Regions from separate parts of the Homo sapiens genome. Here region 2 is linked to region 1. The links come from fine-mapping of genetic effects on gene expression. Tissue or cell type: whole blood. Region 1 holds a variant in brackets; the other region holds the start of a gene. All regions are shown on one strand. Distances are from middle to middle.

Evidence for each region. PIP is the estimated chance that this variant, and not a neighbour inherited with it, causes the effect.
Region 2: EPHB2 starts here. The variant in region 1 is fine-mapped to the expression of EPHB2 in whole blood (TOPMed, PIP 0.98).

What each region holds. Positions count from the first base shown.
Region 1 is chr1:22,730,221-22,738,220 of GRCh38, reverse strand. The region is part of intron 1 of EPHB2 (EPH receptor B2); the gene reads right to left. Among named protein-coding and RNA genes, the nearest start is that of MIR4684, 15 kb to the right of the region's middle. RefSeq lists an enhancer at 931-1,492. The variant C/T (reference allele first, on the strand shown) is at 3,163.
Region 2 is chr1:22,706,775-22,714,774 of GRCh38, reverse strand. EPHB2 (EPH receptor B2) reads right to left here and starts at 3,936. Exons shown (of 16, transcript NM_017449.5): 1 at 3,732-3,936. The coding sequence starts at 3,792. RefSeq lists an enhancer at 2,643-2,742 and a silencer at 4,964-5,249.

The sequences.
Region 1 (8,000 bases):
AAACTAAGACAAGGATCCCAAGTGAACAAAGCCATCTGTGCTTCTGTATAAATCATCCCCAAAGAGGGGGTTGGGCCAGGTAGCCTCTAAGAATCCATCCAGCCCCTAAGTGGAGAATTCTCAACTCTGCGATAAGTTAGTATTTTTTTTATCTTTAAATGGTTTGACCAGGTCTTGCCTCAAGGTAGAGCATGAACTCCAAGACCTCTGCGAGGCTAGGTTGATGTAAGAGCTGCCTTGTTCTGGCCTGAGACCCAGATCCAGTCTCATTCCAGGTTCTACCTAGTTTCAGAGGCATCTGAACAGCCTGTGCATCATGATAATTTCCTCCTACTTCCAAGGTCTTGTGGGAGTGTCATGCTGAGTTGTAAAAGCCTCTAGGATAGAGGGGGAAGTTATTTTCATGGGCAGACAATGTATTCATTCATTCTCTCATTCATAAAACATCAACCCAAGAGCCTGTTGGTAACAGACTCTGTGCTAGGCACTGGAGGCCCAACGATGAATAAGACAAGAAAGTCTCTACACTCCAGTTTAATGGGGGAGGGTGATGTAGACAAAATTAGCCATACCTTGGTGTTATAAGAATTGTTAATCAAGAGCTGAGGGTAAGTACAAAGAAGGATATACCAAGGAGGGGACATTTGAGTTGGGCCTTGAAGGATGAGTAGGAGTTCACTAGGCAGAAGCAAGAAGGGCATTCATTCTAGGCAGCAGCTGGGGCCTGAACAAAGATCTGGGGGCATGGGAGTTTATAACATGTATGTATGAAACCTATAGTTTATGGATGAGAATGACATCCACCTAGAGTTTGTGGGATGACAAGGACAGGCAGAGAAGGCCTCAGGGGCCAGGTCAACGAGCAGCTGTTTGACCTTGATTTTTTTAGATAAGGAGCCCAAGGTCTGAGCAGGAGGGTAATGTGGTCTCAGCTGCAGTTTAGAAGACTCAGTGGTGATGCTTTGTGGGGTTCAGAAGTCACTGAGATGGTCCAGGTGGGGCAGGGGGTAGACTTGAGGTCAGGTGGTAGCTGTAGGAACAGAAAGGCAGGCAGTAGCTGAATGGCCAGGGTGAGAGGGAGGCACAGCTAAAAAGGGCCGTGCTAGCTCTGGCCCTGGTGGTCTCTCCTGAGAACCACAAGGCAGCCAGATTAGAAACGGAAGCACTGGATGACTTGCCCAAGATTCCTCGTCACGCCGATGGCTGGATTCGCAGACACCTGGAGGCCTGGGGGAGTCCCAGGTTCTCCACTGTGTCTTCCCTTCTGACTCCACCCAGAGAGCCATGGCCAAGGTGGCGGCTGATCCGAGCCAATCGGTCTCCCCCAGTCTCCCCTCCTCCCCAGGTCTGACAGGGAGGGGGCCGGCTGAGTCCTGTGTCTCCATTGGCCCAAAGCTCCATTATCCTCCTAGGCAGGGTGACCCCCTGCGGCCGCCCCACAGTGCGCTGGGAAAAAAAGGCTCCTCTCTGACAAGAAAGCCCCATTGCAGGCTGGGCCCGGGGTCTGGGCAGCGCCTTTATCCACAGTGACCCTGCCAGAGTGTCAGCGGCGCAAACATGCCGCGCTGCGGAGGCTGCCCCCACCCTCAAAGGGCCTCGTGCTGAAGCTGTGAAGGGGCCCCCTCCAGGGCCTCTGGGAACCAGACCGCGGCCTGCAGGCCCCACCGAGGCTCCCAGGCTCCTTCCCACCCCCAGGGAACCATGCTTTGGCCAACACAGTGACTGAGGCGGGTCTGTGGGGTGGGGGCTGCTAAACAGAGCCTCGGCTCATGCATTGGGAAGGGGGGCCCCATGGAACTCTTTGTCCAGCCTCCAGAATTATTTGGGAGGAAAGTTGAAGGGGAGAGGCTTTTACGTCTCTGGGCCCAGCACCAGGCCTCATTCCCCACACCAACCAGGCAAGAGGGGCCGCCTTGTCCCCAAACGTTCCCCCATACCAGCCTTATCACTCCTCGCCCAATCCCCTTTCAGGTACAGTCTTGCCAAAGAGGAAAGGGAGGTCTCCTGAGCAGCCTCCTGTAGACCCCCGTGTGTACGATGAGCTCTCTTCCACAGCCCCCCGACTCTGCTTATGACAGCAACAACGATGACCACTACGATCATCTTTATTGAGCACTACCTTTGGGCCAGGGACAGGGCCACATGTCTCTTAGTGCTATTTATCATCCTCATTTTACTAATGGGGAACTGAGGCTCAGAGAGGGAAAAGAGCCTATCGAAAGTCACAGAGCGTGTAGGTGTAAGCCAGGATTTGAACCCAGGTCCCTCAGAGCCCACACTCTTATCCACTGTACAAGATACCTTAGGCTGCTCCGGTCCTGAGGGGTGCACAGGCAGGGGCTCTGCCCTAAGTCTAGTGACCCTACTGACCTCCCAGCCCTCTCCCTCAGTCCTGCTCTCTGGGCCGACTCACTGCCAAGGGCGTCCCAAGTGCCCTATAGGAATCATTAGGCTGTCCCAGGGTGGGAAGAGGATTTCAAGGAAGGCAAATTCCCATGAGTTAAGCCAAATGAGTCAAGCTTGAATTGCAGACTTTCCCATCATGTAGAGCTGAGACAGGCTCTACCCAGGGCCCTCAAATCAGACCCCTGGGAAGTGGGAGAAGGAGGCTCCCTGCTGGGAGTTCAGAGGTTGCTAGAAACCCTGTCCTCAGTAGCTGTTCCTGCTCTCAGGCCTGGGGTAAGCCAGCAGTCTTTTCCAAAGGCAGAAAGTATGGACTGTAAACTTCCTTAGAGGCCCTGGTTCTACTTCTGCTTCTTCTTCTTCTTCTTTTTTTTTTTTTGATACCGGGTCTCACTCTGTTGTTTAGGCTGCAGTGCAGTGGCATGACCATGACTCACTACAGCCTTGACCTCCTGGGCTCAAGCGATCCTCCCACCTCAGCCTCCCAAGTAGCTGGGACTATAGGCACATGCCACCATGCCTGACTAATTAAAAAAAAATTTAGTAGAGATGGGGTCACACTGTGTTGCCCAAGCTGGTCTCGAACTCCTGGCCTCAAGCAATCCTCCTGCCTCACCCTCCTGCCTCACCCTCCCAAAGTGTGCTGGGATTATAGGAGTGAGCCACCGTACCCAGCAAAGGTCCTTGTTCTTAACAGCAGCCTCAGGAAGATGCTCCCACACCATGCCCCACAGGCCACAGGAGTCGGTAGAGCAGGTT[C/T]ATAGCCCTGCTGTGCAGCCTTAGTCAGTGTCACCCTCCCTTGAGCCTCAGTCTCCTACCCTGCAGGGGTGTTCTGAGATAATGTATGTAAACCATCAAACACCCTGCCCAGCACAAAGCAGAGGCTCAATAAAACAAAGTTGTATTCATTATCATCAGTACCATGGAGCAACACAACAGAGGCTTGTAATCTGTAAGTCCCCTGAATTTTTTCATAAAAGTATCTGTGTGTCTCCAACTTTCTAGGAGGGGGCAGTTCATAGCCTGTGGCAGCTTCTCAAGGATCTTCAGGACCCCAAAGAAATTAAGAACCACAGCAAAATAATACTGACATTCAGGCCGGGAGTGGTAGCTCATGCCTGTAAATCCCAGTGCTTTGGGAGGCTGAGGCAGGCAGATGCCTGAGGTCAGGAGTTAGAGACCAGCCTGGCCAACATGGTGAAACCCCATCTCTACTAAAAATACAAAAATTAGTCGGGCGCAGTGGTGCACACCTGTAATCCCAGCTATTCGGGAGGCTGAGGCACAAGAATCGCTTGAACCCAGGAGGCAGAGGTTGCAGTGAGCAGAGATTGCGCCACTGCACTTCAGCTTGGGCAATAGAGCGAAACTCAGTCTCAAAAAAAAAAAAAAAAAGAATATTGACATTCTGGTGGTACTTTATTGAGTGTATATATCTCTGGGCTTTGGTTTCTCTGCATGAAGACTGGGGAGCCCTACCCTAACTGTCTCACAAGGATGTTGTGAAGCTCAGGTGAGACTGTGGAGGGGAAAGGATGCTGTGAACCACACTGGGCTGTGCATGGGCTGTGCCGGGGGGTAAGATTTATCCTGCTCCTGCTAAAGAGGCAGCCAGGACCAGCTGCCTGCATGCAGGCTGGGCCACAGAGGCAGCTGCTCCAAAGCCCCCTCACAGTGAGGCCTGATAGAGACATGAGCCCCCTGCCCAAGCCCAGGCTGGCCCTGGGTGGGAGGCCCAGGGCAGAGCTCTGTCCTTGACTGAGAAGCTCCTGACAGGGCCACTCCTGCGGCCTCTGGGCTGGGGTTTTGTTTTTGGGGATCAGGAGGCCAAGAATCCAGTCCCAGGTTCAACTTCTAGCTCTGTCCCCACCAAATCACACCAGGCCAAGAATCCAGTCCCAGGTTCAACTTCTAGCTCCGTCCCCACCAAATCATACCAGGTCAAGAATCCAGTCCCGGGTTCAACTTCTAGCTCTGTCCCCACCAAATCATACCAGGCCAAGAATCCAGTCCCGGGTTCAACTTCTAGCTCTGTCCCCACCAAATCATACCAGCCTGATGTAGTAGCGTGTCATGAGCATGGGCTTTGGACTTAGAGAATCGCGGGTTCAAATCCCATTTCCGCCCCTTACTGGCTATGTGGCCTTGGGCAATTTACTGAACCTCTCAGAGATTCAGTTTTCCTCTAAAACAAAAATAATAATAATCCTGCCTCACAGTGGTGGATTCAGCATGGCAACATGGCACATAATAAGGCCATGGTATATGCTGATTTCCACCGTGCAAAACTACTCCGTAAAATCAATCCTTTAAAATGACTGTTAACATGAATGTTAAAATTGTATAACGCTAATATTTTCATCATTCATATCATCACTCATCACTGTGTGACTTTGCACAGGTCCTTATCCTCTTTGGGTCTTGGTTTCCCCATCTGAAAATAAAGAGGCTGGTTAGAAAGGCAGCCTGGGCCAGCCACAGTGGTTCACGCCTGCAATCCCAGCACTTTGGAAGGCTGAGGTGGGCAAATCACCTGAGGTCAGAAGTTTGAGACCAGCCTGGCCAACACGGTGAAACCCCGTCTCTACTAAAAATACAAAAATCAGCCAGGCGTGGTGGCAGGCACCTGTAATCCCAGCTACTCAGGAGGCTGAGGCAGGAGAATCGCTTGAACTGGGGAGGCAGAGGTTGCAGTGAGCCAAGACTACGCCATTGCATTCCAGTCTGGGCGACAAGAGCGAAACTCCAAAAAAAAAGAAAGAAAGAAAGAAAGAAAGGCAGCCTAGGAGGGGGAACATACAGAGAGTCTGGACAGTCCTGGATTAAAACTCAGGAAAAAATCCACTTGGGCAAATCCTTTCATCTCTTTGAGCCTCAATTTCTTCATCTGTGTTATGCGTCTCATTCTTCATCTGTATTCAACAGACACTAGCTGATTTTTTGTGTGTGATGTGCCAGGTCTGGACTAGATGCTGCTGGTAAAAAGATGGTCCTATCTCTAAGTGATGGGTCATGGTGACACCCCCGCCCAGGAACGCAGGAGGAGCAATGGAGATATCAATGTGAGCGCGCCTTGTAAGCTGCAGAGCCGCACAGTGTCAGCTGCTGTTAATGGACCTTAGAGGGCCTCCAATTGCAAATCAGAAAATAAAGCGGGGCCGGGGGGCAGTCCCTAAATATTTACCTGCTAGGCAAAAATAAGAACCCCTTCAGCAGAGGCACAAAAGGCAGCTTTAAAAATCTAGACATTCGTGTGCGTGTGTATATCTGTGTGCACACGCGCACTGAGGGTGTGGAATGAAATGAGGTCATATGGAAATGGACTATTTTTATTTCAACAAGGCATTTTAAAAATACTCTTAATTATATGAAGATGGGGTAAAGATTTTCTCAAAAATTAGAGAGAAGAGTTAGAGCCGCCCTCCGGCCCCCCACGCGCTTCCCCAAACCCTGCTGCCTCTGCCTCCAGGTTTCCACCCCCACCTTCTCTGGCCCCCTCACCTTTCCCAGGCCCCCGCAGCTCTTGGCTCCCACTCCTGGGAGCCAGTTGGCCCACACATCTGGGCAGAAGGGAGCCAGAATTCATAGAGCCCCACCCTCTAAGCCCTTTCCAAGTGGGTTCTTATGTCATCCTCACTCTGGGAGGCAGGCCCTCTAATTCCCACTGCACAGATAAGGGGAGCTCATCACCTCTGGAGCTCAGGAAGGTTGTGCTCCCAAGCTGAGGTCACACAGCCTGTAAATGGTCTGTATGGCCCAGAGCTGAATCTCCTCCGCTAGAGGGGGCTGCCTTCCAGGGCAGCTGCTGCTGAAGTTCTGCAAGTCCTGAGACCCAAGAGATCCTTCCAAAGACCAGGCAAATTCCTCTTGGGTGGGATGAAGACTGGGGCACAGGCCGCACAAAAGCATTCCGGCCCTGGCTTCTGTGCCCTGGCTTCTACACAGTGATGATTTTGTTGTTGTTGTTTTGTTTTGTTTGAGATGGAATCTTGCTCTGTTGCCCAGGCTGGGGTGCAGTGGCGTGATCTTGGCTCACTGCAACCTCCACTTCCCGGGTTCAAGCGATTCTCCTGCCTCAGCCTCCAGAGTAGCTGGGATTACAGATGCGCGCCACCACGCCTGGCTAATTTGTATAATTTTAGTAGAGATGGGGTTTGACAGGCTGTTGGCCAGGCTGGTCTTGAACTCCTGACCTCGTGATCTGCCTGCCTCGGCCTCCCAAAGTGCTGGGATTACAGGCATGAGCCACCGCGCCTAGCCGATGATGGTTATTTGTTGAGAACTTACTATGTCTCAGCCACCTACTAAGGTAAGGACTATTACCCTCTCCATTTGACAGATAAGGAAACTGAGGTTCCAAGAAGTGAAGCAACTTGTCCACAGTCACACCTAGTAAGAGCTGGTGCCAGGACATGAACCCAACTGGTGTGACTGCAGAGCCCCTCGGTGGTCCGCTAATCCCCCAGTGCAGCCCCCAGCTCAAAAGAGGGAAGGGGCCTTGTGCACAGTCGCTCAGCAAGTCCTGATGGGGGTGGATTTGGGCCCGGGCCAGGCTCTTCTCTGTCCCTCTGCCCTCCATTCCCCCCGCCAGAATGATCTAGCACATGCTAGAGTCACCAACCTGGCTGCCAGGAGATCGCATTGTCAATACATTATCAATTTACATTAGAAAGAAAGAGACATATGTTTCCATGCCAAAAATGCCAACAGAGCCTCCTGGGGTGAGTGGGGGCAGGCCAGAGGGAGAAGACATTTAAGGTCCATTTTCTCTCCGCCCCCTCTGGATCCCCCAAACTATGTGAGGCAGCCTGGGGAGCAAAACCAGGGCCACTTACTGACAACTCCCCACCACTGCCCGCTTGGTCCAGCCACCACCGTCTCGTGCCTGGACTCTGTGATGGTTCTTCCTGTCCCCTGCTCTGTCCCTCACTCTCTGGCCTCTTAAGACAGAGTGGTGCTTTCTGAACCCAGGTTAGATCCTGCCACCTCCTCAAAGCCCTGCACCGCTCCCATCTCACTCCAGGTAGAAGCCAAAGTCCTGCCATGGCTGGTCCCTCTGTGTCACCTGCTCCCATTCTCCCCTGGCCCTCCCGCTCCAGCCACGCTGGCTGCCTTGCACACCCCTGTCACAGGGCCTTTGCCCAGCTCTCCTCACTGCCTGAAACACCCTCCCCCAGATATCCCTGAACCCCCTCTCTTGCTTCCTTCTGGCCTCTGCTCAAACGTCACCTCCTCAGAAAGGCCTTCCTGATCCCTCCTCTCGCTGGCCCTCCCATCTCTGCAGCAGTTTTCTTCTTAGCACCATCCCTACTTAAGCTACTCACTAGATATCTGGCATCAGTCCTGTCCATTAGAATAAAACCTCCATAGGGCAGGACAATCCATGCTGCCCCCTGCAACTTGTCCACAGCCACATGGCTGGTAAGAGCTTGGGATGTCAAGACCCCCAAAGGCCAGGGATCCCTGACACCTCCCACCCAAGTGCCCACAAGAAGTGGGGGAAGGGCCACCTGGCTTGATATCCGTTGGATCTGAGTGCACGTCTGTCCCACTGACTAGCTGTGTGGCCTCATCAAGCCACCCCCGCCTCCGCCCCT
Region 2 (8,000 bases), 23 kb after region 1:
CAGTCTAGCCGGGAACCGACAAGCTGGCTTTACTGTGACTGTCCAGGACCAGATCTGGCTCATCTGAACGTCACCACACATTGCAAGTCAGTGATCTTTCCAAGCATGAATCTGGCCAGGTCCCTTGATAGCTCAAGAACCTTCAAGGGCTCCCTGCTGCCCTCAGCATTTGATCCAAACTCCCCAGCCTTCCATTCTAGCCCTTCAGGACCTGACCACCCCACTCCCATTCTCAGTCTCAACCCCCACTGCTGCCCTCAACACCCACCCTCCTCAGACACATCAAAGTAAGCACCTGATCATCCTGCCTCCATGTCTTTCTATGGACATATAGACATGCTATTTCCTTTTTTAGGTAAAATTCTCCACATCCTATAAGTTCTAAAGTCAACCTCTTTAACTCTTGAGAACACAGTTCGTTAGCATGACAGGTGGCTAAGAAAGTTTCATAGCAGGGAAAATGGGTGGTGAGAAAATGAGGCAATGCATAACAGCATAAAAGATGAAATAACCCTGTTCTGTCCTCAAGTGCACCTGCCGCCCCGGGGGGTTCACAGCCTCCTCTGGGAAGTACGTTGGACCCCGTATCATGCTCTGTCTCGCCCACTCTTTTCCCTGTCAGCTTGTCCCGTCTCCTTGCCTGCCCCGGAGTCCAGCACCCTGTCAGCCAGAGAGGAAACTCTATCGATATTTGGAGAGCAAAGGAGCAGATGTAAGGAGGCTGTTTTCTTGAGACCTTGACCTTTGGATTCCATCGGCCAGGGATGGACAGGGTCTGCCACCGGCCTCCTGTCCTGTTGGACGTTTCCCCAGTGCTCTTCCATCCTGCTCGCCGCCACTTCACATGCTCCATGCTTTCTTTCACTTGGTCGGGGGGCGGTCTCACAGTTTGGGGGAGATGCTAAGCTTACCGTCCTAACCTAGAAACCCCCCGTATACACACACACTCTCCTCTCCCCCATTCCGAAGGCTGGAGCTGGGGATTTCCTGGGGACTTAACCGGCAGGACAGCCCTTTACGGGCTGAGGAGACAAGGAAGGAGGAAGGGAAGGAAGTGGTAGCCATGTGGCTCTGGGTTCTGGGAGCCAGAGGGGCCACCCTCCTACTGCTCCACGGCCCAGTCCTGTCTCCACAGACTGTGTCACCCTCAGGAGGACCCTGGTGTCTCCCAAATGTGCACAGGCAGCACCGCCCCCCAAATGTGCACAGGCAGCACCGTCCATCCCTGGCTTTGAAGGGGGACTTCTCCCACCCATCATCTGGTCTGATCCTCACAAACACCCCAGGAGACAGGCAGGACAGGCGCTGTCATCACTCTCACTAGACGGGGGAGGAAAACGAGGCTCAAAGAGGGGAAGTAGGGCGTAGACGATGGACTCTACAAGATATTTAGCCAGGCCATTTTACACCCAGAGAAACTGAGGCCCCCACAGGGAAGGGACCTGGCCCAGGGTCCCATAGTAAATGAGAAGCAGGCCCTCTGACCTCCACCTCACACCATCTCCCCATCCATTCGGCCAGCTCCTTATTAACCACTGATGGACTAACTTCCTAGTGTCCAGGGGGCAAACGGAACAAGAGCCTGAGGCAAGCATTGGGGTGCCTGCTGCAGCCCTCCTCCCACCCTGCTGTGGCTTCCCTTCCCCACCCTGCCCCCAAGTGGCAGTCCAAGTAGCCATACCCTCCTGTGACGTCAGCGCCCACCAGCCCTGTGTCCAGGGCCAGGGTCCAGGCTGGCCACAGCCCACCAGATTCCAACCAGCCTCTGCCAGGGCGATGGCTGGACAGATGTGGCCCTTCCATCTACCCCAGAGTAATTAAAAACACACCCAGGCCTCTTCCAACGAGAGAGGGGCCAATTTTCTTCCCCTCCAGCACCGCTGACTGCAACCTAAATAGCAATATTTATGCCAAGCTCCCCATAATACTGTAAACATCCCAATGTATAGCGGGCCAACGCATGAGTCATTTCCCCAAAGCCAGAGTTAATAAGTGGTACCTCAGCCATATTCCACAGAGCTCCCGCCAGCAGCCAGGCCCCAGGGCTGCCCTCCACACCCAGGGCCCGTGGCACCCTAGGTGCCCCAGTGGCCCCACTCCGGGAAACCGCAGTCAGCCGCCAAATCCCCCAGGAGCCGAAGGACAGCTGCCTCAGTGCCAGAAACTGTGGCTGCCATCCAGGGACACCCCCCACCCCCTGACTGCGGTCACTAAAGTGCTCATTACCGAAAGAGAAACTGAAGTTGTAGCACAGGGTCCCCCACGACGCCTTTCCCAGAGGCCGCAGCCCCCACGTCTGGTCTGATATGCGTTTTTTCTTAGGCTGCAAGAAGGGAAGGGGCGCCCCACAACCCTAAAGTGGCCTGAGAGGTGCACACAGACATCATCCCTAAGCCCAAGGGAGCAGAACCCTGGAAGGGCTCACGCAGTTTAGGGGCAACAAAACCCAGCTAAGTGAGTGCTGGTTTCAAAGAAAGACCACAGACCTGGGTTCTATTTTTGTCACCCAACGGCCCTGGGTGAGACATCGGACTTTTCAGAACCTCGGTTTCCCTATCTGTTCAAGAGAAGTAGGAATCATACCTACCTGTCTTCCCCGGAAGGTGTATTTTGAGGGATCCAACACGCTGGTGGGCGGGAAAGCACTTTGTAAAGCTTAAAGTACCTTGTCAACTGTGCAGCACGTTGTAAACCACAGAGAGCTGCGTATAGTGCGAAGTACTTCATAAACTGTAAAGTGGTTTGAAAACTGTAAAGTGCAGTACACGTGAGAACCATTATTCACGTTCGCTTCTTGCCCTGCAAGCTCGGCCATTCCTGGTGGACACACCCAGACCGCACTAACTTTCCCTCCAGAGCAAGCTGGCTCGGGAGACCTAGCAACTACCCTTGCCCCCCTGGGGGTCGAGTGGTACCAATACACGAGGCCACGGGGAGAGGGCCCGCGACCCTGGCCAAGGCCAACACATGGCAAGAGCATCTGGTCCGGCCCCGGCGGCAGCTGGAGAGTTCCCGGGGCTCCAGCCGCCACGCTGAGCGCCGCGGCCGCGGGGCGGTGGCCGGCGGGGGTGCCCGGAGACCTTGCGCGGCGGAGAGATGCCCACAGACCCATCCCCCGCGCAGTCCTCTCGGGGAGGGGACCCCATTGTACGCCGCGGGCGATGGGCAGGCACCGACGCGGGGGCTGGCGCGCTCCCTTCCACTCTGCCAGTCCCTGCTCTCCGGGGCGCCGGGCCCCATCTCGGGGGCGCGGGCCGGGAGCCCCCACCCCGGCCGGCCGCGGTGCCTCCCTCCCTCTGCTCCCTGCCAAACTTTCCAGCCCCGACCGAGCGCCGGCGCCCCCCCCGCCCCCCGCCACGGCCGGGCCCGCGCCCCTCCACCCTGTGCGGAGCAAGACCAGGCCGGCGCGAGGCGGCTGCCCGAGCCGGGGGCGGCGAGCGCGCGTGGGCAGCCCCCAGCCCTGGGCGGCGCTCGCCGGGCTGGCTACAAAGCCTCGGCAAGATGGTCCCTTCGCCTCCTCCTGGCACAGTCAATCAGCGCCCGCCGCTCCCCGGGCGCCCGCGGGGCCCGCTCCTCCCGGCGCGGCCGGACACACCTCCCCGCGGCCACCTGCGCCCGGCGCCGGCCCCCGGGCAAACTTTGCGGGCCGCGGAGCGGAGGTGGGCGCCGGCGGCCGCCCGTGCCCGGCCGCTCCCCGCCCCCATCGCCCGCCCGCCCGCCCGCTCGCTCACCTTCCACGGCGGCGAGCAGCGGCAGCAGCAGCAGCGCGGCCCCCAGCCTCCGCAGAGCCATGGCTGCGCTTCCCGGGGCCTCGGGCCGCGGCGCCGCGGGGCCCGGACGGCCCGGGCGGGAGCGCGCGCCCCGGGCTCGGGGGGCCAGGGGGGGCGGCAAGGCGCGGCGCACACACAGCCGCCGCCACCGCGCAGCCAGCAGAATGAGCCATCCAGCCCGGGCAGAACGGGGACCCGGGCTCCGCCAGCGCTGGGCACGGCCCACCTGAGCCGCGGGCGCGGGGGGAGCCTCGCCAGGCCACCGCCCCCCGCGCGCGTCCCGGCCCCCGGCGGCCGCGCGCCGCCGCGAGCCCGGGTCCCCACACCGCGCCCGTAGGGTCACCCGGGGGCAGCGCGGGCGCTGGAGCGCGGCGACCCCGCGTGCCCGGGCCACTGAGACCCCGGGCTCCCCCCGCGCAGCAGTGGTCTCTCCCGGCGCTGTGGCTCCTCCAGATAAAGCAGCGATTTCAGCCCAAATGTTTCTCAATTTTTATTGAATGCTGCAAAGCCGGAGAGCGTCTGGCGCGGCTGACAGGGGCAGGGAGAGCGGACGGAGGGGAGGGCGGGGGAAGGGGCTTCCCAAAGCGGGGGCCGGCACTACCTGTCAGGGCAGGGAGTCCCACCCCCTCGCCTCAGCCCTGCCACCCGGGTCCCTGCGGCTTCGAAAGGGACCGAACTGCAATGAATGGAAAAAAAAAAAAAAGGGTGTGTGTGGGGGGGTGGCATCTGGGAACAAAACAGGCGGCTTTCCCAGGCACCGGGGCTGGGCCGGGGCCTCCGAGTGGGAGACTGGGCCTTGGCGCTACCCGAGGGCCTGGGGTGGGGCTGGGGGGAGGGTGGTCACTCGGCACTGGTGGGCTGGGCCCTTGCAGGCAGACCCCAGGCCTCCCCTCCCTGCCCCGTTGTTCTGAGCTGGCCCGCGAGCCCCTCACTGCAGACTCGTCTATGTCTGTATTAGATTTCTCCTTCTCTGTTGATCTTGCTCCCAGTGCAGTTTGGGGATGGGGTGAAGGAAGTCCATGGGTGAATCTGGGGAAAGCCCCAGCCACCCCCACGCTGTGGAATGGACCTGTCTGTGCAGCCGTGGTTTTGTGCATGGCCGTCCCTTCAGGGAGAACACAACCCTAGCCCCAACCCTGTGGGCCCTGCCCTGCTCTGACAGCCTTCATCACCATCATCATTAACAGACTTTACTGAAGTCTGGATGGTGGGCGGCTGCAGGGGGCCTGCGGCAATCACCCAGGCTGAACCCCTGGCAGTTGGGAGCCCACTCCTGACTGAGGAGACTTCATCAGGAGCTCGGAACTCTGTGGAGTGAGTGGAGGAGCCCAGTGCAGGAGCAGGTGGTTTAAGTCGAAGGCAGTTTAAGTCTATGCTACCCACATCTCCTGTGTCCCTTTGTCCCACATACTATCAAAATGTCCCAGCAATCCCTCCCCTTCAGTCCATACCAAGAAAATGGGGTACCACAGGCTTTGGGAATCCATCTAAGGTTTGGAAAGTTGGGTCGTCTCTTGAAGCTCCAAGAGTCCAGTTGAAATGGGTGTCATCCTGGAAGGCCACCAGGAGGAGGCAGCCTGGGAGGGAGACAGAACAGGAGTGAGCAGGGAGAGAAGAGAAACAGGAGATTTCCCCCTATTAAGCCTACAGACCCCTCACCAGGGTCAAGAGCCAGTGGGGTGGGGCTGGCAGAGCCACTACCGTTCCTATTTGAGTGAGCAGGGAGAGAGGAGAAACGAAGATTCCCCCTTTTAAGTCTACAGACCCCTCACCAGGGTCAAGATCCACTGGGGTGGGGCTAGCCTTTATTTTCAGTTCTTGCCTGTCAGACCTTCCAGGAGACCCAGGGTTTGAGGGACCCCAAGCTTGGCCCATCTTGAGGCAATCCTCCCTCTCCTGGACAGAGCAGCTCTAAGCTCTGGCCCCCTCCAGTGCATCCAGGTGCTAGACACTTCCAAATTCAAGAAGTCATTATTGAGCACCTATTATGTACTGTGCAGATTCAGCTTTTTTGCTTTGTTTCTATTTCCTGGGACCCTTGACTCCACCTACCCAGGGCCAGTGGTTACTTCCTTTTTGTCTCAAAATAGGAAGACCAGTGACTCTGCTTTATTGAGGACATGGTACCAGGCACTAGGCTGGGCTTTGTTTATTTCTTGTCCCCCTTAATCTTTCCTACTCTGTGCACCAGGTGCTGATCTTTTCACATGATGAAACTGAGGACCAGATAAGTAATTTGTCCAAAGTCACATGGCAAATTGGGCTAGGATTCAACCCCATGTCCGTCCGACCCCAGTGCTGACCTCCTTGTACCTTTCACAGAAGCACAGAGCTCAGGGCTCTTCCCACAGGCTATTTCACAGATAAGGAAACTGAGGCCTAAAAAGGAAAGTGACTCACCCAACGTTATCTGATGAAATAGACATCTATCCAGGGCCTTTACCTGGCAAAAATAGAAAATTACTGATCATAATTAAGTTCCCCTTCTCTCACATCCTCTTCTCTCTAAACAGTATTTTATTCCCCATTTGGGGTGGCTGGGTTCTGCAGTCTGGCCAGGCTCTCCTCCCTGATTTCTTGGCAACCGCCTTTAGCTGTGCTTTTGTCCCAGCTGTGCACTCCACCTGGTTGCCTTCTTGGCTCTAAAGACTTGGATTCAGCCTCACCCCAGCCCCCACCAAGAGCTTAATTGACATTCGCCTCACCCCTCTCTGACTGACCTATTTGCCTATTATCTGTTCCCTGAAAGATAATCAGCCCCACATGGTCCATTGCTGGTTTCTCTGATGGATTGTTTCTGATTTGCACGTTATCTCTACAACTCCAGCCGACTGTGAGCTCCATGAGGGCAGTGCCTGGATGCAAAACTATACTGTACACTGCCAGGGCAGGAGGCCCCAGGGAGCATCTGACCCAATCCCCTCCTCAGCAGAGGAGGAGGCGGTTTAAGCTTCATTTGTCTAATGACAACAGCTACTCGAATTTGCAATCACGCTTTAACAGTTTACAAAGCAGCGTTCACACCCATCAACTCGACTCATGCTAATTCAACCAGCCTATCCTGCGAGCCAGCCCGGCAGCCAGGGAACGCCATTTTTCAGACGGGGAAATTGGGGCCCAAAGAGGGGCCACTTGCCCAAAGACATGTGGAAGGTTTGGGGTTTTTTGTTTGTTTTTGGTGCAGCTGGAGTGAGGCTTCAGTGACCTGTCTTGTCTAGGTCTCTTTCAATCAGAGTTGATTGACAAACATTAGTTGGGCACCTCCTGCATACCAGGCACTGAGGAGGCAGGGACGCAGCTGTGGACCTGCCAGACAAGGCCCTGCTCTCTGGGAGCCTATATTCTGCTGCAGAGAGACCTATATAGGGACAAGCTAATAACGATAATGGTAAGTGCGAGAAAGATAATGACCAGGGTGATGGGGCAGTGATTGACGGAGGGCAGGGGGCTGCTCTGGCCAGGGGAATCAGGGAAGGCCTCTTAGGCAACATGGCAGCTAAAAGCTGGACAGCGAGGAGTCTACCATGCCAACATGTGGGAAGAGAGCTCCAGGTGGAAGAAACTGCAGAGGCAAAGGCCCTGAGGTGGGAACACACTGGGTACCCTCTGGGAATAGGAGCTGAAGTACGGCAATCAACTGGAGCGTGGAGGAGGTTACATCAGGGAGGGAGAATATGGATTGTAGTTTAACCTCAATGGGGGAGTCATGGAGGATTATAAGTTGAGACTGGATAGATTGGAGGTAGAGGAAATAGCATGAACTTGGCTGAGCAGGGCCTGGGGGACCCCATGTGTTAACCCATGCCACCATCCTCCCGGTCTGTGGGGCTGGGCTGGCCTCTAGAGCCCCTAGATGGAGACACCAGGGGCTCTCTTAACTTGCTTCCCTTAACTTGACTCCCTTAACTCCCTAGCCCTCCCTTAACTTACTGTGTGACCTTGGGCAGGGTACTCACCGTCTCTGGGCCCCACTTGCCACAAATGCCAAATGAGGGCATTGGCCAAGGTGGTTTCTCTGAGGCCACTTTCAGCCCTCTCTTTGTCGTGGATTCAGTGGGGGCAACAGGACCTTGGTGAGGATCTCAGCCATACCAGAGGATGCCAATGAGCTCTAGGCTCCCTTTGCTTTCCCTGAGGCTCCTTCTTCCTGAGGGGAAAGGTAGTGGGGCTCTTGAAGGGGGGAAACATGTTACACTGAGTGGCAGAGCCCAGAGAAAACATAGAATAGAC